Linked DNA regions of Homo sapiens. The protein of the gene in region 1 purifies or fractionates together with the protein of each later gene. This does not show direct contact. Each region holds a gene or a part of one and is shown in the gene's direction. Other genes may lie near its edges.

Region 1 (3,759 bases):
CCTGTCTCTACTAAAAGTAAAAAAAGTTAGTCGGGCATGGAAGCGCATGCCGGCTACTCAGGAGGCTGAGGCACGAGAATTGTTTGAACCTGGGAGGCTGAAGTTACAGTGAGTTGAGATCAGGCCATTGCACTCCAGCCTAGGCAACAAGAGCAAAAGTGTGTCTCAAAAAAAAAAAAAAAAAAAAAAAAAAGGCTGGGCACGGTGGCTCACGCCTGTAATCCCAACACTTTGGGAGGCTGAGGTGGGCTGATCACGAGGTCAGGAGATTGAGACCATCCTGGCTAACATGGTGAAACCCCGTCTGTACTAAAATACAAAAAATTAGCCAGGTGTGGTGCTGCGTGCCTGTAGTTCCAGCTACTTGGGAGGCTGAGGCAGGGGAATTGCTTGAACCCAGGAGGCAGAGGTTGCAGTGCACCAAGATTGCGTCACTGCGCTCCAGCCTGGCGACAGAGCAAAGCTTTTTGCTCAAACAACTGGTAAAATGGAGTTGCAGTTATCTAACATAGGAAAACTGTTGCTACTTGGGAAGGTGAGGCAGGAGGATCACTTGAGCCCAGGAGTTTGAGGCTGTAGGGTGCTATGTTTGTGCCTGTGAATAGCCACTGCACTCCAGCCTGGGCAACACAGCAAGACCTCATCTGTTTTTTTTTTTTTTTTTTGGAGACAGAGTTTCCCTCTTGTTGCCCAGGCTGGAGTGCAACAGCACAATCTCGGCTCACCACAACCTCTGCCTTTCTGGTTCACGCGATCCTCCTGCCTCAGACTCCCGAGTATCTGGGAATACAGGCGCATGCCACCACACCCAGCTAATTTTTGTATTTTAGTAGAGATGGGGTTTCGCCATGTTGGCCAGGCTGATCTCGAACTCCTGACCTCAGGTGATCCGCCCACCTTGGCCTCCCAAAGTGCTGGGATTACTGGCATTGAGCCATTGCACCCAGCCGACCTCATCTCTTTAAAACAAAATGAGTTAATTCAGCTGGGCATGGTGGCTCACGCCTGTAATCCCAGCACTTTGGGGAAGCTGAGGTGGGTGGATCACTTGAGCCCAGGAGTTCGAGACCAGCCTGGCCAACATGGCAAAACCCCATCACTACTAAAAATATTTTAAAATTAGCCAGGTGTCGTGGTGCATGCCTGTTCTCCCAGCTGCTTGGGAGGCGGGGCAGGAGAATGACTTGAACCTGGGAGGCGGAGGTTGCAGTGAGCTGAGATTGCGCTACTGTACTCCAGCCTGGAAAACAGAGCAAGACTCTGTCTCAAAAAAAAAAAATAATAATAATTAGTTAATTCATGGAAAGTACTTAGTACCACATTCTGGATACAAACAGATATTTGTGCTTGGCCAACATTTGGAGGCAGTAAAGAAAGCTTATAGAATAACCACATATTAGAACTTGTGAAGGAGAAAATATACATATATATATATGTATATATATAGTCTCTCTATTAAGTAATTTACCATAAGGGGTTTAAATAGGAATGTTGACTCCAAAGTGAATCTTGAAATCTTGGTGTTTATAATTGTCAAGCCTCTTTTTTTAAAATAGATTTGGTCAACAGGAAGTATTTTTTTCTAATTTTTATTTTATAGACCTAGTCAAGCTTCTTAATTGTTAAATATTGTTATAACAATACATCTGGGCCGGGCGCGGTGGCTCACTCCTGTAATCCCAGCACTTTGGGAGGCCAGGGCGGGTGAATCACGAGGTCAGGAGATTGAGACCATCCTGGCTAACACAAAGAAACCCCATCTCTACTAAAAATACAAAAAATTAGCTGGGTGTGGTGGTGGGCGCCTGTAGTCCCAGCTACTCGGGAGGCGGAGCTTGCGGTGAGCCAAGATCGCGCCACTGCACTCCAGCGACTCCGTCTCAAAAAAAAAAAAAAAAAATACATCTGAGTCGTACATGGTGGCTCATGCCTGTAATTCCAGCACTTTGGGAGGCCAAGACAGGCAGATGGCTTGAGCCCAGGAGTTCCAAGACCAGCCCTGGCAACATGGTGAAACCCTGTCTCTACAAAGAATACAAAAATTAGCCAGGTGTGGTGGCGTGTGCCTGTGGTCACAGCTACTCGAGGCTTAGGTGGGAGAATCGCTTGAGCCGGGGAGGCAGAGGTTGCAGTCAGCAGAGATTGTGCCACTGCACTCCAGTCTTGGTGACAGAGTGAGACCCTGTCTCAAAAAAACAACAAACAAAAAAATAGATCTGGGGCCGGGCGTGGTGGCTCACGCCTGTAATCCCAGCACTTTGGGAGGCCGAGGCGGGCAGATCACCTGAGGTCGGAAGTTCGAGACCAGCCTAACCAACGTGGAGAAACCCCATCTCTACTAAAACTACAAAATTAGCCGGGCGTGGTGGCACATGCCTGTAATCCCAGCTACTGAGGAGGTTGAGGCAAGAGAATTGCTTGAACCCGGGAGTTGGAGGTTGCAGTGAGCTAAGATTGCGCCACTGCACTCCAGCCTGGGCAACAAGAGTGAAACTCCGTCTCAAAAAAAAAAAAAAAAAAGCATCTGGGAATATAAGTGCACCCAGGACTCTAATTTTATATTTCTATTTTTAACATATGAGACAATACTTTATCCATAATAAAGTGCTACATTTTTCAGTCATATAATTAGTAGAACATATACTTCTCTGTGATTCAGTTTTTTTATTTGTAAAATAGAGATAAATAATAGCACTTATGTCATAGGTTGTTGGGAGGGATTAAATTAGTTCTAGCCAGGTCCTATGGCATGTGCCCATAGTTCTAGTTACTTGGGAGGCCGAGTGAGGCAGGAGGATTGGTTTAGTCCAGGAATTTGAGGCTGTAATGTGCTATGTTCGTACCTGTGAATAGCCGCTGCAGTCCAGCCCGGGCAACATAGCAAGACCCCATCTCTCTAAAAAATTATTTAATTCATGGAAAGTACTTACAACAGTGCCCGCAGACAGCTGATACTCAATAAATGTCAGCTATTACTAAAAGGAAGAGTTTGCTTCTAAGGCACTTGGCTAATGTGTTAAAGTTAAATCCTCTTTTTCCAAAACTGTAAATATAGATTTGTTGTGGGGTTTTTTGTTTGTTTGTTTGTTTGTTTGTTTGTTTGTTTTTTGAGATGGAATCTCACTTATGTCGTCCAGGCTGGGGTGCAGTGGTGCGATCTCAGCTCACGGCAACCTCCACCTCCCAGGTTCAAGGGATTCTCATGCCTCAGCCTCCCAAGTTGCTGGGATTACAGGTGTTGCCACCATGCCTGGCTAATTTTTTTGTATTTTTCATAGAGACAGGGTTTCACCATTTTGGCCAGGCTGGTCTCGAACTCCTGACCTCAAATGATCTGCCCGTCTCAGCCTCCCAAAGTTCTGGGATTACAGGCATGAGCCACTGCGCCCAGTGCTAGATTTGTTGTTATTTCTTATGTAGTACATATTTATGGTGATTTTCTTTTGAATAAAAATGATTTTTATTCTTGATTTTTAAGGAAACTTTAGTAAAATATGTCAGACATAATTTTAATTGGTTTTTTTTTGCCTGTTACATGTGACTATATTGGCTGAAAACTTTTTAGTTATGAAGTTTTTCTGTGTGCTACTGTCTTGTATTTTGTATATCTAGTATTTTGATTGTCAAAACACTTTTTGACCCCAAATTATGATTTTGTCATTGCAGGCAAGAAGACAACAAGACCCTAGTCCTGGTTCCAATTTAGGTGGTGGTGATGACCTCAAACTTCGTTAATTAATAGCACAGCAGATGTGTGCT
Region 2 (4,054 bases), about 37 Mb from region 1:
GCAGGGCCTGATTGAGGACTGCCAGCTGGCGCTGCAGGTGAGGGCCTTCGGAGTCCCCATGCCTATGTTCCTGGGAGAGCTGCCCAAGCAGGTATTAGAGCAGAAAAAAGGAGATATGGGGTATGGCTTGGAGAGCCTGGCTTTGGCTGGCCATAACCCCAGAGAATTTGAGGTGCCATCTTCTGCATCCCTGCCGCCTCAGGCAGCACCCCCACCCCAGCCTCATGCCAGGACCTTTGCAATGGTTAAATAGCTGCTCTCTACTTCCCACTGTTCCTATGCAGCCAGTCCAGCTGTTACACTCGCACCTGAGTAATTATCTTTCAGCACAACCCCGATCTATTCTCTCTCTTGCTTAGAAATCCTAAATAGCTCCCTCATGTCACTAGGGAAAAACATCTAAATTTAAATTGAAATATAATAACCTCTGCGATCTGGCCCTATCCTGGGAGGCAGCATTCTCCCATGGCTTCCGCCCCCCAGGAGCTTTCTAATTCTTTTTTTTTTTTAAACAGTGAAATTCTTTATTCAAATGAAATCTCACAGAAGCAGGGCCACTCCCAGTAAAACAGGGTTGGGGATTCTAGAGACCCCACCTGCTAGGCTCCACTTTTGTGGACCCCTTAGGGTTCTGAGGAGCAGAGCTTGGAAAGTGAAGCCAGGACATAAGGGTTCTGTGTCACCTCTGTCACAGCTGACTCAGTGACCTTCAGTGAGTCCATTCCTACCTCTGGGATTCTGTCCTCGGGTTCCGAAAGACAGGGAAGGGAGAAAAATAAGTACAAAGTAGTGAGTTTTACATAAAGCCTGTTATTCTGTTCTATTTTTACAATGTTAAAAATGTCCTTTCTTTTATGTTACAATAGTAAGAGAAGATTATAAAAGTTTCTTTTTGAATGCCCTTTATAGATTAAAAGGTTGCCTCCCTGAACAACTTTTGTCTCAGGGAATACTTACTGGTTCTTGAAGCCCAAAGGTGTAGAACTCCTTTGGACAATATCCATGTTTTTCAAACTTTTTGATTGCCTGCCATAGGGAAAAAATGCATTTTAGTACTCATTATATATAACTGAAATAACAGTTCTATAAAAAGATACTTTTAGTGAAATGTACTCTGATAATCTTTCTTTTTAATGCTGTTTGGGACCCATTACTTATTTCATGACCCATTAATAAATTACCACTTGCATTTGAGAAACATTCATTGTACTAGATCTTGGAAGTGCATTCCTGCTCTGTAGCATTTTTGTTTTGTTTTGAGACAGAGTCTCTCTGTCGCCCAGGCTGGAGTGCAATGGCGTGATCTTGGCTCACCGCAACCTCTGCCTCCCAGGTTCAAGCAATTCTCCTGCCTCAGCCTCCCAAGTAGCTAGAATTACAGGCGCCTGCTACCACGCTTTGCTACTTTTTTGTATTTTTAGTAGAGACGGGGTTTCACCATGTTTGTTAGGCTGGTGTCGAACTCCTGACCTCACGTGATCCATCCGCCTTGGCCCCCCAAAGTGCTGGGATTACAGGCGTGAGCCACCGGCCTGTAGTTTTAAATTTACTAATGTTAAAACTAAAGTTTTAAAACCCGGCCTGTAGTTTTAAATTTACTAATGTCATCATGTACCCACTGTGTGTCAGGAGCAATTCTGCTATCTGCTTGTGTATACATCTTGTATCCTTGTTTGACGTAAAAAGAAACGCGAGGGAGCTTGGAAGACGTGTCCAAGGTGAAAGAGCTGGGAAGCAGCAGAGCTCAGATTTGACCCCAGGCTACCTGACTATCTGACCTTCAGCCTCCCAAGAGCTGTACTTTTCTATACTCCTGCTCTCTCCTTTCCAGGTTCCCTCTGCACCTCACGCAGCTCAGCACACTCCTCAGTGTGTGGCACTTCATCAATATTGGTCTATGCAAACCTTTTGTCTTTTAGTTTTATTTCTTTCCCTTCATTCCCAGTCCCCTGCCTACTTTCCTTTTTCCCAGGGGCACCCATCCAATTTTAATGTTTTGATACATATGCTCGAAAAGCTAAAGCATTGTTCTGCATATGTGTGCATTTTAAATGTCCATAAATGGCATTGAAGCTGTGAATCAGTTTCTGTTGCATTGTGTTTTTTTAATTCAGCACTTTTTTTCAAGATCTATTCATGCTGCTCCAAGTACATCTAGTTCTTTGCTTCTAACAGCTGCAGAGAAATCTGCGGTGTTCATTCACCATATTTTGTTCATACATTCCCCTGAGGTTGGAGACCTAGATTGCCTTCCAGTTCCTGCCCCTACAAACCGTGTCACCATGAGCATCCTGGTACATGCTCCCTTCTGATTCTGTGCCAGTCTCCTGTCATTGTAGCTGGGAGTAGAATTGCTGGATAACAGGACACCTGCAAACGGCGTTTTAGTAAATATCATCTAATTGCTCTCCCGAATGGTTATAATACTTTATCCTCATAATGAGCAGTGCATAAGAGATTACATTTCTGCATGTCCTCATCAAGACATGGCATCATCCAGCTTTCTAATTTTGCCAATCCAATGAGTGTAGCGTGATCTCATTTTCATTTGCATGCCTCTGATTACTAATGAGGTTCAGCATCTTTTCATATACTCACTAGTGTTTTTTTGTTTCCCTTCCTGTGAATTGCTTATTCATGTTCTTTACCAGATTTTCTGCTTTTTTCTTTTTCATGTTGCTTAGCAGGAGATCCTTGCATATTTTAGTTTAGTTCCTAGGGATAATTAAGCCCTACTGCATATGGGTATGTCTTATACATTCCCTAGGGCATGGATTATATACATAACAAATTAACCTCTAAGCCTGTAGCATGGGACTATTTACCTACTGTTCTCAGCAAAGTTCAGAAAACACTCAAATTATTTGCTGTTTTTTTGTTTTTGTTTTTGTTTTTCTTTTTTTGAGGTGGAGTCTTGCTCTGTCGCCCAGGGTGGAGTGCAGTGGCGCGATCTTACCTCACTGCAACCTCCCTCTCTGGGGTTCAAGTGATTCTCCTGCCTCAGCTTTCCGGGTAGCTGGGACTACATGTGTGCACTACAATGCCTGGCTAATTTTATCATATTTTTGGTAGAGATGGAGTTTCGCCATGTTGGCCAGGCTGGTCTCGAACTCCTGACCTCAAGTGATCCACCTGCCTTGGCCTCCCAAAGTGCTGGGATTCAGGCGTGAGCCACCGTGCCTGGCCATATTTGCTGGTTTTTGAGATTCAGATGAGGAACTTCAGTTGAAAAAGTCTGTTCTAGATAAAAATTTCTAGTCAATGTAGATATCGCCAATATTTTTTCTTAGAATGTCACCCACTTGTGGCATCTAGCATTGAATGGAAATCCTTGATTTTTTAAAATTACAAATAACCATTGATTATTTTAAAGCAGTATTTATTAATTGTAGAAATTTCAGAAACACAAATAATCTAAAAAATAAAAGCACCAAATATTCTTCCAGGTCGTTTCCTGTGTGAGAGTATGTGTGTGTGTGTGTGTTTGCTTGCCAAAATACAATCGTGTTGTATGAAATGTTTTATAATCTGTTTTTTGTTGTTGTTAATAATTGCCATCTTTACATGTCAATAAATTTTTATTTAATATCCAGTCCAGGGCATACTCCGGTTTCTCCAGTTGTTCCAGAAATGTGTTTTTACAGCTGGTTCATCAAACCAGGGTCCAGTCTAGATCTTCACGTTGCATCTGGTTATCTGCAAGTTAACAATGGAAAGCATGACTTTACAAATAGTTTCATGTAATAATGTTGAAGAGATGATAAGAGTTATAGGTATTCTATGGCACGAATGTAATTACTGGTTCAGGTAAGGATTATCATTGATAGGTAACTGCCTTAATACAGTTACCATAATAATACCATAAGCATTACTTTATTACATAAGCCAAATAATACCATAAGCATTACTTTATTACATAAGCCAAATAATACCATAAGCATTACTTTATTACAATCCAAGGGGTCCCTTTTTCCTCACGATGCTGGCTTGTTAAAGAGACTGCCAGTTGTCCTGCACAATGACCCGCTTTCCAACTTTGCCTGGTTGTTTACTC
Region 3 (4,054 bases), on another chromosome or scaffold:
CATCTAAGCTGGGACCCCAAGGATGAGGAGGTCTTTAGCAGAAGAGGAGAGGGGAGAAAGTGAAGGTTTGGGGCAGTGAAAATCTGCTCAGGGAACTGAAGGAAATATGAGGTGTCCAGAACCCAGAATGTGAGAGGGGACACCGGGGAAGCAGGCTGGAGAGCAGAGCTGGCCAGGCAGGGCATGCTCCCCAGTGGCCTGGAAGGCCCTGCCGGAGGGGTTTTCACTCAGTTCTGAATATGCTAACTTTCTAACGGGCGGTGGCGTTCTGCTTTTTAAACAGCAGAACAAAGTTTCCTGTGAAAGCACAACCTGTAATGCAGGTGAGAGCAGAGCAGCTGCAGGGGCAGCGCCTGTGGCCCTGAGGGGAGCCAGGGAATAGGGTTTACCGGGTCCGGCTGTGGTCTGTGCGCCTTCAAGAGAGATGGGATTCAGAGCAGCCATCTTCGTCCATAGCTCATCACTAGCGGGTTCCAACAGTCAAAGACACTGCCCTCAAATGCCCTGTGAATGCCTTTTCTCCTGCAGCATCCTTCAGAATCGCGGTTCAGCACTCACTGAGGGAGCACCCACTGTGGGAGGCCTGGGAGTGTGGATTTGAAGGGCACAGACCCAGGAGCCAGACTCACCTGGGCCGGTGGCTTGTTCACCGTGTGACCTCGGGCATAGTACCTAAGCTCTCTGAGACTTCTTTTTCCCTTCTGTAAAATGATGATGGAACCAAGTCATTGAATTTTTGTGAGGATGGAATGAGTTCATGCCTAGAAAGTGCTGAGGAGAGGGCCTACTGCATAATGGAGGCTCTGTAGGTGGCATCTCGTTTGATTCTCAACAAAAACTTGGCATGGCTGCCATTAACCTCAAATGAGGAGACTGAGGCTCAGAGAGGTGAAGCGACTTGTAAGATCACACAGCAGAAAGGTAGAGGAGACAAGAGGGAGCAGTCAGATGTGGGTGACTGTGCGCCTGGTGCTCTTGGAAGGCTTTCTGTGTCCCTCTTTAAGACTCTCTGTCTGTATCACCGTCACTGTCACTTCTTTTTCGTGTTCATTTGTTTTTTGAGTTCCCAGTTCCCAGCACAGAGCCAGACATGAGGAGGTATTCAGTAAAGGTGTGAATGAATGAATGAAATTCATGGGTGGATTTGTACATCCCTAGCACTTGGCTGATGTCCTTAGTGAGGGAGTGAGTGAGCCTCCAGCAGCACTGGGATTTAACCCTGCTAAGGGCCTGTGCGGTCCCCTTAGCCCCACCCCTGGCTGCTCTTAGAGGGAAGGGCTGGCCCAGGAGGCCGGAGTGTGGCTTCAGTGAAAGTACAGGGCCTGCCAGGCTGCTCCTGGGGAAGTCCGCAGAGCAGTGCCGGGGCAGCCAGGCCTCCTGTGGGACTTCCTGCCAAGGCCCGGGCCCAGCCCTTGAACAATGGCAAGGGCTCGAGAATCAGAGAATCAAAAGGAAAAGGGCAAAATAAAGGTGGGGGAGTGGGCAGAAAACGAGGAATTGCATGTGGGGACTGAAGAGCTGGTACGGAGGACTTGTGTGGCCTGGGTGGAAATGTAGTCAGAGGCCCACCCTCCAAACCCCCTCTACATCTCCATGCCCCCAGTCCCTGGCCCTGAGCATGGCCTAGGGTAACCCTTAGGGTCTGTCAGCCTTCTGTGCATCCCCTCCAGGCTGTCTTCCGCCAGGTGGGGTCTCTTGAAAACCCCCGTCTGACCAAGTCACCTGCCGCTTAAAACTCTTGCTTCCCCTGGGTAATGGGCGGCTCCTTGGCCTGGGTGAGAGGCCTACTATGATGGGCTGCAGGCCCATTTCCCACCTGGCTCTCTGCCCTGCTCAAAGCATCTTTATTCCAGCTCCAGCCGTGCTCTGGGGTTCCCTGAGGGCAGGCACAGAATGGGTGGGAGTGGGGGCTGGCAGTGGGAAGGAGCCAGTGGGCTTACAGTGTTCCCCTTTCCTCTCCGCCTTACACAGAGCCATGAGACCCCAGATCCTGCTGCTCCTGGCCCTGCTGACCCTAGGCCTGGCTGCACAACACCAAGACAAAGTGCCCTGTAAGATGGTAAGATGCTCTGCCCAGACAGGGTGAGGACCACCCCCACCTCCCTGCCCTAGGGTGTGCTAGTGCCCCAGCCCCAGAAGCCAGAAGTTAGAAGAGTCAGGAGAGGAAAGGGAATGTACCTTGCATTTAATGAGCACCTACTAGAATGTTTAAACACCTTATTTACCCACAGTCCTGCCAGGTAAGCACCATTATTCTCATTTTGCAAAGGAGGAGACTGAGGCTTGGAGAGATTGGGCCTTGTCCAAGGTCATTCAGCTGGGAACAGTGAGGCTGATATTACACTGTATTCCCCCAAGCTGTCCCCACAGAGCAGTAGGCCCAGCTAGGGGATCTAGAATATATATATATGTGTGGGGAATTTGGGGTAGGCCAGCTGGGAGGGGCTCCTCTGTGCTCATCCCTCTTGGAGACAAATCCCCTTCCAAGCTGGGCTCCTTGACTTGGGACTGCCCGCTGGAGTGCCTCTCACTTCTTAGTGCCCAGATCAAATGCTGCCATCTCCAGGAAGCCTCCCCAGCCCCTCCCAGGCTGGCCTAGTCTGATCACACCTTCCTCTGGGTTCCTGCGGTCCCCAGGCTTCCCCCTATCTCAATACTGAGAAGACTGAACATGTGGGGTGGTTGGTGAAAGGGTCCAAGCCTGTCTCACCTGCCAGACCATGAACTTCCCTAGGGCAAGGACCAAGTTTGATTTGCTTCTATTCCTTTTTCCTGTCCCAAGCCAGGGAAACTAGCCCTAAAGTTCTTGTGACTCTATGAGATACAGGGCAAAGAGAACACCTAGATCCACTTGTAAGGCCGGGCAGTCACTGAGGCCAGAGCCTGGCTGGGGAAAGGGCAGGGCCTCCGGAAGCCCCTCTTGGACCTGAGACTCGAAGAAGCTTATGACACAGAACCGGCAGCTGCTTCAGGAGGCAGGAAGTGCAGGCAGCTGCCTGCCCGCAGCCCTTCCCTGGGGGTGCAATGTCTCCTGTTGCCACCACCTTTCTTGCTCTTCAGAGCCCTTCTAAGATTCCCGGAGCCCAGAATTGCGGGCAGAGAAGGCCTCAGATGTCACCAAATACAAACGCACATTCTACCTCAGGGAGACGAGGCTCAGAGGGGAAAGTCCTTGACTACCCAACAGGCAGAGGGGAAGCGGGTGAATTTTGGAGTCTGGGGAAATGAGATAAGAGATAGGAAAGCACTTTCTGAACCAGCATGGGAATAATACACACGGGAAGTAAGGAGAAGATGTGTGACCCACCAGGGACCTACAGGATTCGAACCCAGCTGCCTTTGCCACTGTTCACTGCCTGGTGCCTCTCCCTACTCTGCTTTCCTCCCATGATCAGGTGGTGAAATGGAGTTGGATGGCAAGTCTTTGCTTCTGAAAAGGAAGCTGGGCAGTGGGTGTCCTGATAGCCCAGGACAGTGGGTGGGAGCTCTAAACTCTGGTCAAGGGCCAATTCCTCCAATTCCCTCCGACGGTAAGTCAGGCAATGCTGGGAGCTCAGAGCTGAAGGAGGCATGAAGACCCTGGAAGTGGAGCTCTGAGCACCGCCCTGGACTTCAAGCTTCTTCCTGGACTGGACTGGAGATCTGGGCATCCCAGTGCAGCCCTGCCCACCATCAGGCCCCCAGGCTTCTAGAGCAGGGGTCTTGGGCCCCTGAATGGAAAGCCAGTCTTGGGCTGTGGGCTTGGCAAACTTTGTGTCCTGGATCAAGTCTCAGGGGCTGGTGCCCCAGGGAGCCTTTGCCTATCCAGAGGCAGTATGCCTCTGCACTTGCCCGGGGGTAACACGCGGGGCACAGCACGGTGCCCCCCACACTGTAACAGTCAGTAAGTGGGTCCATGATGCTCTTTGCTGTGCTGACCAGCTGAGGGCCCAGTGGTCAGAACTTGGCTGGCACCAATAGGAAAAGGAATTTGCAAATGGGAGTTTTGAGCCCCTGACTGTCTGATCTTGGGCAGCCCACTCCCCTTAGCCTCAGTTTCGTTAGGGGTACAATA
Region 4 (4,054 bases), on another chromosome or scaffold:
GCATTTGTACACAGGCTATGGCCACTTTTATGGTAAGGCAGTGTATTGAATATTACCTTTGATCTTCAGGAAGATGTTCTGACAGAAGTATGATTGACTAGAAAGTGTAGATTGTTAGTATTTCAAAGGTTTCAGAGACTAGAATTGGCATTTTCTTAGTTAGATTCCTAGACCTAAGAGTCGGCAGGTTTTAATGTATTTCCTTGATGCCTAGGAGAAGCAAGACCTTTCTGTCCATTGTTGACAATGCCATTTCAGTACTGTATGGTGAGGGATTTGTTTCCACTGAGAAGGAAATGCATAAAATAATCTATGAAGCATTCCTTATTTCTTAACTGCTATGGTATACCAGAGTAAAACATCTTCTAGTCTTTCTCTTTTTCAGGAGATAGTAGCGAGTTACTCCTCAAGGAAGGGTAAAACAATATACTCTTTAAAATTATAATGACATGAGTTCATTTTAATATTCTAAGAAGGATTCGTTGAGCTATGTCAATTCATACAGGACTTGAAAGTGTTATGCTTAATTAGGAGATGGGTTTATTTTTAGAGAAATAGGAGATGGATATGACTCATTTCCATTTAAGCAAGGGTTGGCGGAATAATTATAGTGAAGTTGTGAAGAAACAAAGACTGAGATGTTAATTGTACTGTGAGTTGCTGCTCTGTAACCTTAGTGAAAGAATAAATGCACTTAGCTTAAGACACAGAAGACAGTAGCCCATAATTTGGAACACAGCCTTCATTTGTCAGTGCTGGCTACTTAAAATAAGAAGGAATATTCACTACTACTGTAATGTTGGATTACTTAGTCAAGCAAATGAGGTTCTTGTAGATTTAGTAGTGAGACAGAAAAACCATCTTCAGTTCTTCTAATCCTTTTTCTTTTCTATGCGTTGTAACCACAAAGTTTCCATGGGGAGTAAGGAATGTTCAGCTTTCCTAGATATGATGGATCTTAAACCTGAGTTCTTAGAGAATTGGATTTGGGAGCTTTTGTTACAGTGACAGGTCAGGGAAGACATCTACTCAAATGATTTGGGAAATACACGTGGGCTACTCATGAGAATCAGAAAGAACACACTGAAGGAGTATAGATGAACTCATCAATCTGGTACATCCTATAGTTTAGAGAAAAGTGCCATCTTGCTTGTAGTTAACTCTTGAGAAGCCTAACCTCAGGGTCACACAAGGACACACTTCATCACAGGGATTTTTTTTTTTTTTTTTTTTTTTTTTAATGTCCAAACGATAACTTACTCTCTTGGATAAGCTCAGGACGCACAAGGATTGTACACACCAACTCTGTTTCAAGTACTTTAGGTACTTTCCCTCATTTAGTAAACAGACACTTGTTGCATGGCTACTATGTGTCATCTGAAAAGACACCATCCTTACTCTCAAGTTACTCATCATTCAGGAGCAGAAACAGGCATAGATACAGGAAGTGTCATGAACTTTGTTACACCGTTACAGTAAATCCCATGGAGGGGCATCAAGGAGGTCCATGCAATTGCCAAAGAGGGTAGGGGGGAGGGGAAAGCTTCCTGAAAGAGGAGATACTCTGAGTCTTCAAAAATACATTTCTATAGTATTCAGAAAAAAGAAATTAAAACTCTATACATTGTAGATTAAAGATGTTGCCTTGGTAGCCCAGGTGTTGCCTTTAGTTTGGCAAAAGTGCTGTTGTTTGGAGCAAGTTTTTTTTACATGGTTAGTTGTTTTGGACACCAAATTCTTTTTTTTTTTTTTTTTTCAATGGAGTTTTGCTCTTGTTGCCGGGTGGGAGTGTAATGGCGAGATCTCGGCTCACTGCAACCTCTGCCTCCCAGGCTCAAGCGATTCTTCTGCCTCAGCCTCCCAAGTAGCTGGGATTACAGGCATGTACCACCACACCTGGCTAATTTTGTATTTTTAGTAGAGATGGAATTTCACTATGTTTGTCAGGCTGCTCTTGAACTCCTGACCTTGGGTGGTCCGCCTGCCTCGGCCTCTCAAATTGCTGGAATTACAGGCGTGAGCCACCGAGCCCAGCCCTGGAAGCCAAATTCTTTGTCTCCTGTATTCCAAGCCAAAAGGACATGCTTTTTGTTTGAATTGATAGGAATCCTAAATTATTGACATTAGGATAAATGCTCATTGGAAATCTATTCAAATTTTGCATTGTTTTCAAAGAGGAAAGGCTGGGGTGAGGGGTGGTGGGGAGAAATCTACATTTTCTGCCACAGCTTTATTGTGCTTTTGAATTCCCCATGTGCCATCTTCATACCCAGGATATGTTTTAACCATAATTCATTGCCTATGAAGCTAACATGAAGACGAGAGGGCAAGTTGAAATTTAAAACATGATGCCTTTGTCAGTGGGAGTCTAATTTTGGCTGGTCTATTATAGAATGCAGTTAGTCAATATGTATTCAAATATGGAATGCATATTTTCTTTGTCCCCAAAATGCTCTTTTTCGGCATTTAGTGGGAATGTAAAATATTTTAGGAATTTTTATAATGACAAAGAATTGGGGACAAATTAATTATACGATAATAAGAGGCTCTTTAAAAGTATGATATATACATACAATAGAATACTTGGCAGTCATCATCTTTAGGATAGACAGCCACATTTATCAACAGAGAAAAATGTCCATAGCATTATGTTAAATGTCAGTGAACAAAGCAGGTTACAAAAGAACATGTGGAGAATAATCTCATGAAGGTAAAATTGTAATCACGTGTGTGTGTGTGACATCTATGTTCGTTTAGATAGATTAAAAAATACCCAGAAGAATATTGAACAAATTATTAGTATAATTATCTCTACATGGTGAGGTTTCAGGTGATTCTAATATCCATCTGTTACTTTTTTGTATTTTAATTTTTGCGGTAACATTGTATTAGTTTGGCAAAAACTGCTGATTTCAAAAGAATTTTGTTTTCAAAAGAAAAAAATTAAAGTGTAATTTACTTGGTATTTACCTAAAAGCGTAGTTTTTCTTTTAGGAATACATAACCCCAAATGAAAAAGGCTTAACTGATGTCAAAGTTATCTAGAAATACAGCCAAGCAGGGTCAGAGTTGATGTGAACTGGATTCAGCCTTGATTCAAGCCTGGTCTCTTTGGGATTTCTTGTTCTTCTGCTGCCTTGGCCTGAACAGTCCCTCTCCTCCCTAATTTTTCCTTTATTCTGTGTCTCTCAACCTGCCCTGCCCTGCCCTGGCAAGCTTTGGGTGAAAGGAAGTGAGAGCCTACAGGTCCTGGCCGGGTTGCCAGTTTGGGGAGGGTGGGAAGTTGGAGAAGTGGTCACTCGCTCTATGAAGAATAGAACTCTCTAGAATCAAGCAGAACCATAGTTTTAAAGTGATTTTTTGGACATGAGACACCCACATAAGCCAAAGTGTTGACTTTTTTGTCTTCTCCATCTCATGCTTGTTTCTGTCCTCGCCATCCAGGGTGATGAGGGTGCTTAGAGAAGCATCTTCTCTCTCTCTCTCTTTTTTTTTTTTTTGGCTTTTTGGCAGAAGAGAATTCCCTCCCACGTGACAACTGCTTGAACATCAGCTGCACCAATTTTTTTCTTAGCATTGCACACGTTTATTGCATAAATGCAAAGCAACTGTGGCATCTGAAGATTTACTCCCCAGCTAAGCAGCATCCATGAGACCTGTTTGGGTGCAAAAATGATTTGGACGCTGGGTAACAAAGGTCTAGAGAAGCATCTTCTCTAAGCACAGGAGGAGGCTGAAGACCAGGAGTCTGGTCTCAGCTTGGCCAATTAGCAGCATCGCCTTAGTCTTTCTCCTCATTTGTAAAAAGAGGGGTTTACACTGAAAAAGTGTGTACAAGTTTTCTAACTTACACTATTGTATTTAACAGTTATCTATGTGCCAGCTACTTTCCAATACTGGCCTAGGATCCAGGGATCTGGAGTGAATAAATGAACTAAATCTCCCCCTTGGGGAGCTTAAATTCTAACAGAGTGGACTTTGGAGAAGACAACGAACAAACACCTAGGTGTCAGAGTACGGAGAAAGGCGCTGCTATTCATATGCGGTGATGGGA
Region 5 (4,054 bases), on another chromosome or scaffold:
CGCTTGAGGTCAGGAGTTTGAGACTGGCCTGGGCAACATAGCAAGACCCTGCTTCTACAAAAAATAAAAAAAAATTAGCTGTGTGTGGTGCTGTGTATCTATACTCTTAGCTACTTGGGAGGCTGAGACAGGAGGATCACTTGACCCCAGGAATTTGAGGTTACAATGAGCTATGATCGTGCCACTGCACTGCAGCCTGGGAGGCAAAGGAAGACCCTGTCATGCAGGGCCCAATTCTAGCTCTGGTATGGTTTAGCTGGGTAATCTCATAAAGACTCAGTCTGCTCCCTGTGAAAAAGGAAAATAATGGTACCTGTCCACAGGGTTGTTATGAGGATTAAATAAGGTAATTCATTCACTCATTTAGTCAATCAACAAATAGTTATTGAGCATCCACTATGGGTGAGACACCATTCCAGGAGTAGAAGACATGGCAATGAACAAGACACCAGGTCGCACCCTCATGGAGCTTATGTTTGCAAGGAGCTGGGCACACAGAAGCAGTGAAAACACAGGAGTGAGTCCCTCCCTTCTCATAGGGATTTTTTTTTTTTCTTAAATGGATTCTTAATGGCTGCTGGCATTTACTTTAGAGAGGTGAGGTTTTTCTAGGCAGTTACAGTGATGCGTTTTGACAACCTCCTACTTTGGCAGAGTTCTCAGCATTTCCAGGTCTTGTCGGCTGTACAGGGCAAAGGGTGTGTTAGAGATATTTCCCAACTGGAATGGGAGGCTCCAGCCTCCCTCATTTGTTCCAGGTCACTCCCTGTGATAGACTAAGCTCATATAAGGGCCCAGCCCTGTTCTGAGTCCAAGAGTTATTTTTGTTGATTGTCAAATATTTATTGAGCACCGATTAGGTGCCAGACACTGAGCATAAAATAAAAACAGAAATGAGGCTGTTCATGTGGAGGAAATGAGTCTAATGGGTTCCCCTACACCTCCAGGCCTCATTCACAGGCCCCTTCCTCAGGGAGGCCTCCCCAAACCCACTCCTACCCTCTGTTATTACTCCCATAGCAAGTGGCCATTCCCTTTCTGTGACATCCCTTACACCTCTACTCAATACCTGTCAACCCTATTGAACTGCAGGACCTCTGGGGCTGGAAGCCTGGTTTCCAGTTCTATGCATTGGCTCATAGTTGGTGCTCAATAAGATACTTGCTGACTGCATGGATGAGTGAAACTCCTAAGGCCTCCCAGAGTGACGCAGACCCTTTCCCTAACAGTAAGATGATCTGGAATCAACAGGAATTGGGAACACTAAATTACCAAGTGGCTGATGACGATCGGACTCATTTAGACCTAGTTTTCCCCTTCTCATCATCTGCTGCTTTCCTTCTAACTAGGAAACTTTCTGCTGGGAATGGGTTTAGGGACTGTGATGAAAGAACCCACTGCTCTTCCCTCCAAAGTCTAAGCAAAGTTCAGTCAGATTCTATCAAATGTGGGTTTCCTATCTGTGTCTTTTCCTCATCTGTGCTATCGCTCTTCCCCTTGAGCTCTGATGGCCAGTGGCCAACAGAAAATGATTAACTCCCCCGAGTGCTTTTGCATATATATTTTGATATTTCACCCTTTCTTCCTAGATACTAAAGTCTATGCTGCTTTGGGAAATCATGATTTTCACCCCAAAAACCAGTTCCCAGCTGGAAGTAACAACATCTACAATCAGATAGCAGAACTATGGAAACCCTGGCTTAGTAATGAGTCCATCGCTCTCTTCAAAAAAGGTACCAACACCACCTGCTCCTATCAAGAGCACTTACTGTATGCCAGGGTCTGATCTTCGTCTTCACAACAACCTCTTAGAATAAGTACTGATTTTATCCCCAATTTACAGATAAGGAAGCCAGGGTCATACAGCTTAGAAAAGGCAGTCTTGGGAGCAGACTCCAGAATTAACTCCAAAGCCCTTCCTCTAAACCCCACGACACTGATGATGCTCCTAAGTTCATATTTATTGAGCCTTTACTGTGTGCGAGGCACTGCCCTCTCAGCCTGGTCCTAGACACTTCACAACAACCCTTGGAAGGAGTGGTTTCATTTCCAGCAGGTTTGAACCTTGCCACCACTGACACCATGGGCTGGATAACTCTGTCGCAGACAACTGCCACGTGTGTTGCAGAATGTTGCAAACACTCACTAGAGTGATACCCTCAGGAACACCCCCAGCTGTGACAACCAAAAATGTCTCAGACATTGCCCAGTGTTCTCTTGGGCCAGAAGCACCTGGTTGAGAATGACTGGTTCAGAAACACAGCCAGCCCAAGGTGACTTTGACCCTACTCTTCCCTTTCCTCGGTCTCCTGCTGTTGGGACTCCCCAGTGGTTAAAGCCGACCAGAAGCCTGTGCCACAGAAGCCTGTTGATTTAGTCCACATAGATCAGCTCTTGGAAAAGACAGCTGAGCAGTGAAGGGTCGACAGTGGATCTGGATGGGCAAACACACATCACTGTTAGTCTCACTATGCAGATAAGGAAACCGAAGTATAGAGAGGTGAAGTTACTTTCCCAAGTTGCACAGCGAATGAGTTCCAGAGCCAGGAATTGAATCCAGGCCGCCTGGCTCCAGAGCCTCTGATCTTCCAGATTGATGTCCCACCCATGGGAAAGATGGGAGGGGAAGATGCAACGGAAAAAGAAAGTGGGACATTGAGGTGGAAGGGGCGGAAGCCTGTCTGGCCAGAGGTGGGGGCCTCCTTCATATTGTCCCTGGCTGTGACAGGTGCCTTCTACTGTGAGAAGCTGCCGGGTCCCAGCGGGGCTGGGCGAATTGTGGTCCTCAACACCAATCTGTACTATACCAGCAATGCGCTGACAGCAGACATGGCGGACCCTGGCCAGCAGTTCCAGTGGCTGGAAGATGTGCTGACCGATGCATCCAAAGCTGGGGACATGGTAAGAGGCCCTGCTTCTTTCTTTTCTCATCTGGGGTTATTTCCTGCACAAGTCTCCCGCTTGGCACAAACTCACCCACCCACCCAAAGATGCCCATATCCCAGAGGGTCCTTTATCAGCCCGGCACCAGCAGAGGGCTTCCTCCATCCTCACCACAGCCCTGTGTGCTGGGATCTGGAGCCCACTGCAGATGAGGACCCTGAGGCTCATAAAGAGTGGTGACGGTCCCAAGTCACATAATAAGTGACGAAGCCCAGACTAGAAGACCAGACTCCAAGTCCAGTGCTCTTTCCACTCCCACCACATGCACAGCTGCAGCCAGTACTGTGTGCCAGATCTCCAGGGGATGCCCTGCCCTTGAGTGTGTCCAGCTAGCCTGCTGGCCTGACAGCTCCTCAAGGACTGGCTCAGTGTCTCATTTGCCCAAGTCCTTGCACTGACCAGCCCATCCCAAGAGGATCTCACAGCTGGTGCCCATGAGCATGCACTATGCCAACATTGGGCACGTTGTTTAGGACATTATGCGGATGATCTCAGGTAGCAGAACTATGGAAACCCCGGCTCAGTAGCGAGTCCATCATTCTCAAAACCCCACCAGCTATGTGCTATTCCAGATGAGAAAACAGCAGCTCAGAGAGGTGATACACAGCTGGTGTCTAAGCTGCAGTCTGACTCCAAAACTCATACATTTAACTCTGTCCCCTGTTCTAACTCCTGCCATGGTGGCCAAGTGCCCAGGTGTTGTCAGATGAGTGACTCAAGGAATGTAAGAAACGAATGCACATTACCGTGTAGCATATCACACAACCACGCAAGAATGGTTTCGTTGCAGTGTTCAAGCTCTCCAAGAGAAGAGTAGTCTTTGAAGGATTAGGAAAGCTTCATGGGGGAGGTGCTCTTTGAAGTGTGGGGAGGATTTACAGAAGTGAAAAGGAGAAGGGTACTCCAGGTGGCAGGCACAGAGGTGGGAAGGTATGTGGTGCATTCATTGCAGGGCACAGGGAGAAAGTGGGACATGGAATCCGGGAGGCCTTCAGGGAGGAGATACATTTGGGCCTGTCTACCTGCCTTTGGGGCAATTTGCAGGTTTTGAGAAGTAGAAATGAGGGTCTGGAGAGGGCATCTGTGAGCCTCTTCTGGGAACCCCTCCCTT
Region 6 (4,519 bases), on another chromosome or scaffold:
TCTTGGAAAGTCGCGTCAGTGAAGCCCGTGGCTTCGCGAGCGAGCCGGGCTGGCGCAGACTGGGTTCTCTGGCCGCAGCGGGTCCGCGCCTGACGGGGAGGGTCCGGCTGACTCGCACATCTTCATGGCTCACCCACTGTTTGCTGGGCGCACGGGGTGGGGACCCAAAGACGAATCCCATGCAGAGGTTTGGGTCTAGTTTTGGCAACAGAAAAGGCCGGCACCGCCGGAGTAGGACGCGCGCGCACCACCATCCATTCGGCCGGGGAGGTTGGGGCGTCCGCGGGGAGCAGACCCGAGGCTGGGCGCCCGGAGGTACGAGCAGGACCCTGGCCGGCTCTCAGCTCCCAGAACCCAGGGCCAGGCGGGGATGTCAGGGTCTGCGCGATCTGGGGGGCCCTAGAGGCGCCGGCGGGGCCTGGCGCGGACTACTAGCGGCCTGCGGGAGCCAGGGGTGGAGGGGGCCGCTGTCTAGGGAAGAGGACCGGGGTCCGGAGTGGGGGTGAGAACGAGGCACGCCCCTGAGCCTGCGAAACCTGCGGACCGAGCGCCCGCGCAGGAGCTCGCTCCCTCTGGGCCCCCAGGTCCCAGACCCGCACGATTCTTCGCCCGGTGCCAGCCCAGATGCGCGCGGGTGATGAACGGGCGGTGGCCGCGATCCACGCGCTCGCTCTGCCCAGTCAGCGGCAAATTCGTTCTCTCCTTGATCTCAGTGGCACTGGAGCGTGAGGCAAGGGCCAGGCGGCAGGTAGAGGGGTCGGACTCAGCAAAAGCAAACAAAACCCCAAGCAAACGAAATAAATACTTATACATTACATACACGATATAATATATGTGCGACAGACACCGTATTACTTATTAAAGATATATTTGTAGGTAAACATATATTTACATGTAAACATACATTTACATATAAATATAAATATATATATATGCATGTGTACACACACGCAGACACACAGGTCGCTCAATTAAATTTGAATTTCAGACTAGCGAGTAATTTTTCCGTATTAGCATGTCCCGTGCAATATTTGGGAACATACTTATAACTAGATTTGTTGTGAATCTGAAATTCAAATTTTACTGTGCTTTCTACATTTTTATCAGCAGCCCTAGCTGGAGGTGCTCAAAGGCCTCCCGGCCTTTGAGGTAAGGTTCTCGGGTCGGAAATCCCTGGTCGGAAGAAACGTGGGCGTTTCCTTTAAAGCCCTGCGGCACAAGAACTACAAGCCCCACAATGCCGCGCGGAAGCCGGCGGCGCTGATAGGCTGCAGTTCACTTCCGCCTTCTGACTTCCGGCCTCGGAGGCCGGCGTCGGCTGTTGCAGCCTGCTGCGCGCCCAGGGGTCCCGCGGGTTTTCGGGCGCAGGGTGGCGCCCGCGGCAGGCGGCGGCCATGAACTTCTCCGAGGTATTCAAGCTCTCCAGCTTACTCTGCAAGTTCTCCCCGGACGGCAAGTACCTGGTGAGCGGCGGGGACCTGGGCCACGGGCAGGACATCCTCGGTGCCAGCGTCCCCGGCGGGCAGGGCCGGGGGCGGCCGCGTGGGTGGAGGCAGCTTGGGGATCCTGCAGGTGCGGTGCCCGGACAGGTGCGGGGCCCGGGCAGGTACCCGGGGCAGGTGCAGTGTCTGAGCAAGTGCCCCAGACAGGTGCGGGACCCAGGAAGATACCCTAGACAGGTGGAGGGCCCGGGGAGGTGCCCCAAGCAGGTGCGGGGCCCAGGCAGGTACCCCAAGCAGGTGCGGGGCCCAGGCAGGTACCCCAAGCAGATATGGGGGCCGGACAGGTGCAGGACCCCGGCAGGTGCCCGGGCAGGTGCGGGACCCAGGAAGATACCGTAGACAGGTGGGGGGTCTGGGGAGGTGCCCTTGGAAAGGTGGGTATCGGCAGTGCCGACTGCACACAGGTGAGGGTATAGGAGATGTCGGCTCTTTGTTGTTACTTTGTCACAAAAGGCAAATTGATGATTCTGTTGCCTGTAAACTGGTAAGTGGTGTGGCTACTTTGTCATCTCTACTTCTCCTCTAATTCTCTTCTCCTCTACCACATGCCGAATAAATGATTTAAATACTAGTATTCTATCCCCAGGTAAGGAAGTAGTTGTCCTCATGGCTGGGATTTGAGGTCTTCGTTCCATGGGTGGCAGAAGGGTGCTTAAATCACAGAGCTATAACTTTAAGCTTCAAAACATATAGTGTATGTACCTGGATGCCTAGTAGTGTATATCCTCAGAAGAGAGGGATAACCCGGATGCCTAGTATGTATGTCCTCAGAAGAGGGGGACAATTGGCATTGGAAAGCCACTAAGAAGAAACATGCCTCGTAAAAAGTGGGCTTCGTTTTCCTTATCCACCACCTGTACTAACTGACTGATGTATCATGATGCTTTTTCAGGTTTTGCCACTCCTGACATTCCTGTGCTCTGTCTAGCTTTTGAGAGTTTAACTCTCAAATTACGTTTTTTACCTCTTCAGGGAGGTTTTATTCCAAATCACATAAAATAGCATCAGCTACAAAACAGAAAACCTCATTAGTTTAAATGGCATCTCAGCCTTGGTATATTTTCAATGTGCCCCCCTCCTCAATTAAATGAGAGGTTTGTTTTTTGTTTTTACCATTTATGAAAATTTCAGTGAATTATAAGGAGAAAGATTACATCTGCTTGCTTAACTTGGGTGTTTTTTTCCAGCTTGTACACTCTGGTCAAAATACCCTGAAACACTTGGTAATGATCTGTTACTGGAATCATCTTCTTGAAAGCCCTGAGGACTGGGGAGAGCAGGTCCATGTTTCTAGTTTTCATATCTTGCAGTAGAGTTTATGTGGTTCCTCAAGGTGTTGGTAAAAATATTCCATTTCATAAGGAATTCACTGTAACTGATCACAGTTTTCAAAGCTACAGTGTGAGAAAGTAAGTGCTGTGGTAGCTCCTTGTTCCAATCTGCCGTCACCCGCCTGTCTCTCTTTTCTCCCACGGAAAACTAACGTGGCTTTCTTTTTTGATATCGGTTCATAAAACACAAACTACTTTGACCTTGATAAGTAAAACTAACGAAGCAGTTAATATTTAAACATCAGTTCTTGATCTTGAAACTGTAGTAAAATATACATTCAGCAGGTGAGTACTCAGGCGTTATTTTTACTTGAAATTGTTTGCTTGGATAGGGACATAATGAACAAATATGGACAAGAAGAAACTATCTTTAAGAAAATAGTACTAACACTTAAACATTTCCCGTTTCGTGTTAGGAATAGGTTAATGGAGATAAATGAGCATTTGCGAAGCATCTTTATGTGTGCAGAAGTGAAAGCCTGTCTTTTGATCTTCTGTTGTTTTGGCTCTGAGTTCGGCACTGCATAAGAAGATTGATGCATTCCTTGCCATTTTCGTTGTCATCTGTGAAGCCTCAATTCTTACCCTTTATAAATTTGAGGAAATTGTCCAAAAGTGTTTATAAAACTAGCAGAGGATTTTGGTTATTAGTTCACAGAAGAGCTTTCTCCCAATGCTACTTCCCATTTAAGTTTAGTTTTTAACATACAGATAAGAAGGGACTTAAAAATGTCTTAAAGCTTTAAGTAGCGAGTTAAAACATACTTTTATACTTTACAATAGAGTATAGCAATATTAAAACCTGGCTTGTATATTTCAACATTACCCTTGTATGAACTGAACTGATCTTTAGGGGCTGGGGATGTCACTGGTGATCTAGACATGAAACCTCTGGCAGGAGAGAAGGCCACAGTCACTGAAGGCCAGGGCAGTAGCATTCCGAAGGCCCCCCTCTTTTGGAGTGGAGAATGTCAGGTGCTTGCTTTCTCATATTTTTTAGGCTTCCTGTGTCCAGTACCGGTTAGTGGTCCGGGATGTGAACACCCTTCAGATCCTTCAGCTGTACACGTGCCTAGACCAGATCCAGCACATCGAGTGGTCGGCAGACTCGCTCTTCATCCTGTGCGCCATGTACAAGCGAGGGCTGGTGCAGGTGTGTGCTGCCGTGTCGCTTAGAATCTGGACACCTTCTGAGGGCCCCTGGGAAGGAGGGGTTTTGTTCTGTGCCTTTCTAGTTTGAAAAAAAAGTCCGTGCAGCTCAAAGCCAGTTTTCTTTTGAAATTATAACGTTCTCTAAAGTTTAAGAACATTTAAACTAAGGAAACTCCAACGTAGTCTTAATTTCTAAGCAATATAGTTGAGAAACGGAGGTGTTGACAGCAATCTAGCCACGCGGATGTGGTGTGTTTCAGGAAGTCCTAAGAAGTCGTGTTTTCTTCTGTGTCCAAAGCTTAACTAAATGAGGTCTTAGGAATGACAATGTGAATAAACAGTTTTAAAACAACAACGAAATGAAATCACCAAGAAGCGTGGCTTACTTTTACACTGGAATCCAGCACCAGCCCTTCATCATGAAAGGTTCTAAAAGACACCCTGTGTGATCGGGTCTCTGCTGGTTTTAAGGGAGTTGTCTCTCGGCGAGGCCTCGCTATAGACTGCTGATGAGTTTGAAGACACCCTGTGCGG
Region 7 (4,054 bases), on another chromosome or scaffold:
TCTATCGGCTGCTAAAGAAATATAAAAACATACAGTCCATTGAAAGTGTGGTTTGATATCTTCCAAGAAATGCTTTTGGAGTCTGGAGAATTTTCTTTCTTTCATTTTTCTGGGAGTGAAAATAAAATCAACAAACAGAAAAGGACAGTGGGGAGTTGATGAGTGTGGGGGAAATCTACAGAGAAATGGAAGTCTGACCGGGCCTCGGGTGCTTGGCAGGAGAGCCTGCTTCCCGACTCTGCAAGCCGGTTCCAGCCTCCCTTCTGCTGCAGTGCTTTCTCCTAAGATATTTTTTTGGAACCTGACACTCACTTGTTGCTTTCTGAGCATGTGGGCTTCCTTCTCTCCTAAGGACGGGCCCTTAGACGCCCATCTGGGTTTCTGTTTTCTAGTTTGGTGTGTGGCCAGGTCCCAGGTAGAGGAATGTGAGTGGGATTCGCATGAATGGGGAGGGCATGAATGAAGGTGTAAGGGATGGGAGGGGTGGGGCTCCAGCCCAGCAGGGGGAAAGGGCTCCAGCTCACTGGTTCTCGGCCCTGGCTGCCCATTGGAATCACCTGGGGAGTCTGAAAGACTATTCCGATGTTTGTTCCCAGTGTAACTGGTCAGGGGTGCTGCCTGCGCCTTGGGATTTTTCAAACCCTCCAGGTGATTCTCAGATACTGGAAACTTTGAGAGACACATCACGACCTCATGCTGTCAGCAGCCAGGGTGTGTGTGTATGCACGTGTGTCCGTGTGTGTTCTTATACTACGTTGGGGAGAAACTGGCAGAAAATAAACTAGAATGCAGTAAGATCGGCACTACTTACGTGGCAATGCCCAGGGGGCACGACGTTGCTCCTAGAGCCTCAGTGTGCCCATCTGTCCTGTGGGGGATGCTCACCAGCCCCCAACCCCGGGGAGGACCTGGTGAGCTCTGGCAGCCAGCAGCAGAGGGGGCTGCTTCTTGGCGGGGAAGGGGTGGACCGGAAGTTGGGTGCTGTGACCGCCTAAGCCCATCTCTATCTTCTCTGCCCCTTCCCTTTCTTCTTTCTGTCTCCAGCAGAGGCTGACCATGTGGAGGCCGCCATCCTCGAAGAAGACGAGGGTCTGGAGATAGAGGAGCCAAGTGGCCTGGGGCTGATGGTGGGTGGCCCCGACCCTGACCTGCTCACCTGTGGCCAGTGTCAAATGAACTTCCCCTTGGGGGACATCCTGGTTTTTATAGAGCACAAAAGGAAGCAGTGTGGCGGCAGCTTGGGTGCCTGCTATGACAAGGCCCTGGACAAGGACAGCCCGCCACCCTCCTCACGCTCCGAGCTCAGGAAAGTGTCCGAGCCGGTGGAGATCGGGATCCAAGTCACCCCCGACGAAGATGACCACCTGCTCTCACCCACGAAAGGCATCTGTCCCAAGCAGGAGAACATTGCAGGTATGGGATGCTGCGCTTGCCTGGTTGCTGTGGAAGCCACCTCCTGGGTCCCATGCCCTCTGCCTGAGTGTGCTGGTGCAGGGGAAGGCCCAGGGGCTTCCAGGATGGCCTCTGGGCCACCAGCCGGGGCTCCCCCTTTCTGAGGGTCCACCATCCAGGTGACCTTCAGGAGGAGACAGGCCTGGGGCTCGGGGAGGCCCAAATGGCTGATGGCTGCTTGCTTTTGGTGAGGGGACTCTGTCTCGGGGGCTAATCCAGAGGTGGTCAGAAGCACAGAATGAAAATTTGGAAGTCTGGTTGGCCCTCTCTTTGCTACTGATCTTGGCTTAGTCCCTGATTTTGAAGCCAGACAGTTTTGGGTTAGAGTTTGTCTTCACAACTTGGACATGTTAGTTTGCCCATCTGTGAAATGGAGCTAAGGAAACCCACCTCATTAGGGTTGCTGTGAGGACGAATGAGCTGTTGCATGCGGCATGACCTGGTAGGCACTTAGGAATGGGAGTGCTCATTCTCTCCCCTCTCCTTTCTCTCTGGACTCAGTTTCCCATGTGTGAAATGAGGAGTTAGGCCCCCTGATCTCAGAGGTTGCTTCTGACATTGCCCGACCCCAGGGGCCGGTCCCAGGCAGGGGTGTGGGAACTTGTTGGAGCACTGTGCCCGTTGGGGGAGGTTGGATATGCCCTTTGACATGCTCACTCATTTGACCACTGGGACAGCTGGTTTTACCACCTTGAGAACAGGTCTAGGGCCCCTCTGTCCCCAGGCGTGGGTCTGCTCACCACAGTGAGTTAGCATGAAGTCCCTCCCTCTTGGCCAGCACCATGGCATGCTGGAGCCTCTTCCAGGGAGCCGCTGCTCTCTGTGCAAACCAGAGTGTTTGTTTCTGGTTTATACTTCTGAGCCCAGGAGGCCTGGGGGAGAAAGGAGGGCCTGGCCAGCCTGGGTTCCCTAAAAAGCAGCAGCCTGTGCTGGAGCAAGATGGGCATCAGAGTTTATGCAGACGAGTGTTCAAATCCTGATGGTTGACTTTGGATTAGCCACTTCATGGGTCCGAGCCTCAGTTTCCCCATCTGTCAACAGAAAGTGATAATAGCAGCAGGCCTGGTGTGAGGATTAGATGAGCAGGGGCTCTTAATCAGTCTTTTGCCCGTGGCACTTCTCTCTCAGAGGTTTCGTCTGGCTCTGCGGTGTGCAAGTAGGTGGCTGGCTGGGGAAACGAGTGCATTGATCGTTACCATGCTTCCATCATGGAAGGTAGCATGGGCTCTGGAGGGACTCAGGCTTTCGATGCTTCTAGGAGGGTGAGATGGATGGGCATGGGCACTGATCAAGACCCATCACCCAGGACGCAGTCAGGGTAATGCTGCAAGCCTGTCTCCCCCACGTCTCCAAAGCTTTGTGATGCTGAGCCTCACTTTGCTCACCTGCACAAGGGGCTTAGTGAGCCCTCTCTTTTGTGGGGAGACTGTGGTGGTATGCAGAGTCCTGCAGCCTCATGCCAGGCACTGGGGAGACATCAGTGAACCAGATTGGCCTCTGGGCCTTGCCTTCTGATGGGTGCCCTAGCATGAAGTGTCTCATACACTTTCCAAGATGCAAGGGGCTTTGAGACATGTCCAGGCCACCGGCATGTAAACACTGGCTTCTCAGAGTGCTATGTGCACCTGAGCAGCGTCTCTTCACCGGGCTGAGCCATCAGGCGAGAGAGGTGCTGGGTCCCTTTTGTCTTTGTTGGTCCACATTCCAGGGACAGTTTTACCTGTAGTATCGACGCCTGGCCTCAGTGCACATCGATCTTTCAGGGGTGGCCTTGCTAGGGAGACTCGGGCCGCCTATTTATGTTTCCATGGAAAGATTTGCTGCTTTTGCCAAAAACATCCAAATCCTCATTTCACATTGAAGGCATTTCCCAATGAGAGGCTGCAGATCACTGTGGCAGGTTTGTTTAAGAAAGTGACTAAATGTGATTTCATAAAAGGCAAAGCTAATCTCCAAGGCAGCTTTGTCCTCATCCTTCCACCCCCTGGCCCCCCTGTTTTTTTTTTTTTTTTTTTTTTTTTTTTTTCCAGGTTGTGATACTGCAGCAGCCTACAGTATCTTTATTTTATGTGTGACGAAAGATATTCTTGGCCTTTCTGTTCAGCAACAGGACGAATGGATTTCTTCATTCTAGAAGAAATATGTAAAATAATCCCTTAGAAGTCTAAAGAGATATGTTTGTTCAAAGCATTTAAAATGTTATTTTAATCAAAGGCACAAAACAGTCTACATGCTGTGTCAGCTGAAGACGACCATCCCATTTTAACAGCACACATGCGCCTGCCTTCTAGTTCCCATTCCTCCTATTTCCCTGCCTACTTGGGCAGCAACTTTTCTTTTTTTATTTAATAAAAAGGAAAGATTAAAGAAGAAAACTTCAGTGGCTCAAATGTATAAAGTAATTTAATATGGTGGGAGCATTAATTATTTTAGCTTAATTGAATTCCGAGGACTGCAGTAGTTGCATTTTTGTAGACAAGCCCTGTTTATTATTTCTCTGTGTAGATTAACAGTAAAGGAAACACAGATAACTTTCAGTTATTTATTGTAAAATAAATGTGTCAATTCATGTGTAAAGCAAGCTGCTCAGAGATAATTGAGT

The links.
Region 2: the proteins of CBFB (region 1) and KCTD13 purify together in Homo sapiens (co-immunoprecipitation; one large-scale study listed by IntAct). This does not show direct contact.
Region 3: the proteins of CBFB (region 1) and LRRC32 purify together in Homo sapiens (affinity purification with mass spectrometry; one large-scale study listed by BioGRID and IntAct). This does not show direct contact.
Region 4: the proteins of CBFB (region 1) and ETS1 purify together in Homo sapiens (affinity purification with mass spectrometry, with the first as the bait; one large-scale study listed by BioGRID). This does not show direct contact.
Region 5: the proteins of CBFB (region 1) and SMPDL3B purify together in Homo sapiens (affinity purification with mass spectrometry; one large-scale study listed by BioGRID and IntAct). This does not show direct contact.
Region 6: the proteins of CBFB (region 1) and WRAP73 purify together in Homo sapiens (co-immunoprecipitation; one large-scale study listed by IntAct). This does not show direct contact.
Region 7: the proteins of CBFB (region 1) and BCL11B purify together in Homo sapiens (affinity purification with mass spectrometry, with the first as the bait; one large-scale study listed by BioGRID). This does not show direct contact.

What each region holds. Positions count from the first base shown.
Region 1 is NC_000016.10:67,095,044-67,098,802, forward strand, and holds part of CBFB (core-binding factor subunit beta), read left to right. Parts: intron 1-3,666; coding exon 3,667-3,735; 3' UTR 3,736-3,759. UniProt on the Homo sapiens protein: Forms the heterodimeric complex core-binding factor (CBF) with RUNX family proteins (RUNX1, RUNX2, and RUNX3).
Region 2 is NC_000016.10:29,919,173-29,923,226, reverse strand, and holds part of KCTD13 (BTB/POZ domain-containing adapter for CUL3-mediated RhoA degradation protein 1), read left to right. Parts: coding exon 1-37; coding exon of another isoform or gene 38-91; intron 92-1,265; coding exon of another isoform or gene 1,266-1,373; exon of another isoform or gene 1,374-3,696; intron 3,697-4,054. UniProt on the Homo sapiens protein: Substrate-specific adapter of a BCR (BTB-CUL3-RBX1) E3 ubiquitin-protein ligase complex required for synaptic transmission.
Region 3 is NC_000011.10:76,663,876-76,667,929, reverse strand, and holds part of LRRC32 (transforming growth factor beta activator LRRC32 isoform a precursor), read left to right. Parts: intron 1-1,971; 5' UTR 1,972-1,975; coding exon 1,976-2,059; exon of another isoform or gene 2,060-2,064; coding exon of another isoform or gene 2,065-2,082; intron 2,083-4,054.
Region 4 is NC_000011.10:128,577,362-128,581,415, reverse strand, and holds part of ETS1 (protein C-ets-1), read left to right. Parts: intron 1-4,054. UniProt on the Homo sapiens protein: Transcription factor. Directly controls the expression of cytokine and chemokine genes in a wide variety of different cellular contexts. May control the differentiation, survival and proliferation of lymphoid cells.
Region 5 is NC_000001.11:27,951,626-27,955,679, forward strand, and holds part of SMPDL3B (acid sphingomyelinase-like phosphodiesterase 3b isoform 1 precursor), read left to right. Parts: intron 1-1,589; coding exon 1,590-1,733; intron 1,734-2,728; coding exon 2,729-2,901; intron 2,902-4,054. UniProt on the Homo sapiens protein: Lipid-modulating phosphodiesterase. Active on the surface of macrophages and dendritic cells and strongly influences macrophage lipid composition and membrane fluidity. Acts as a negative regulator of Toll-like receptor signaling.
Region 6 is NC_000001.11:3,646,875-3,651,393, reverse strand, and holds the start of WRAP73 (WD repeat-containing protein WRAP73), read left to right. Parts: upstream 1-1,290; 5' UTR 1,291-1,394; coding exon 1,395-1,463; intron 1,464-3,833; coding exon 3,834-3,986; intron 3,987-4,519.
Region 7 is NC_000014.9:99,254,830-99,258,883, reverse strand, and holds part of BCL11B (B-cell lymphoma/leukemia 11B), read left to right. Parts: intron 1-1,044; coding exon 1,045-1,413; intron 1,414-4,054. UniProt on the Homo sapiens protein: Key regulator of both differentiation and survival of T-lymphocytes during thymocyte development in mammals.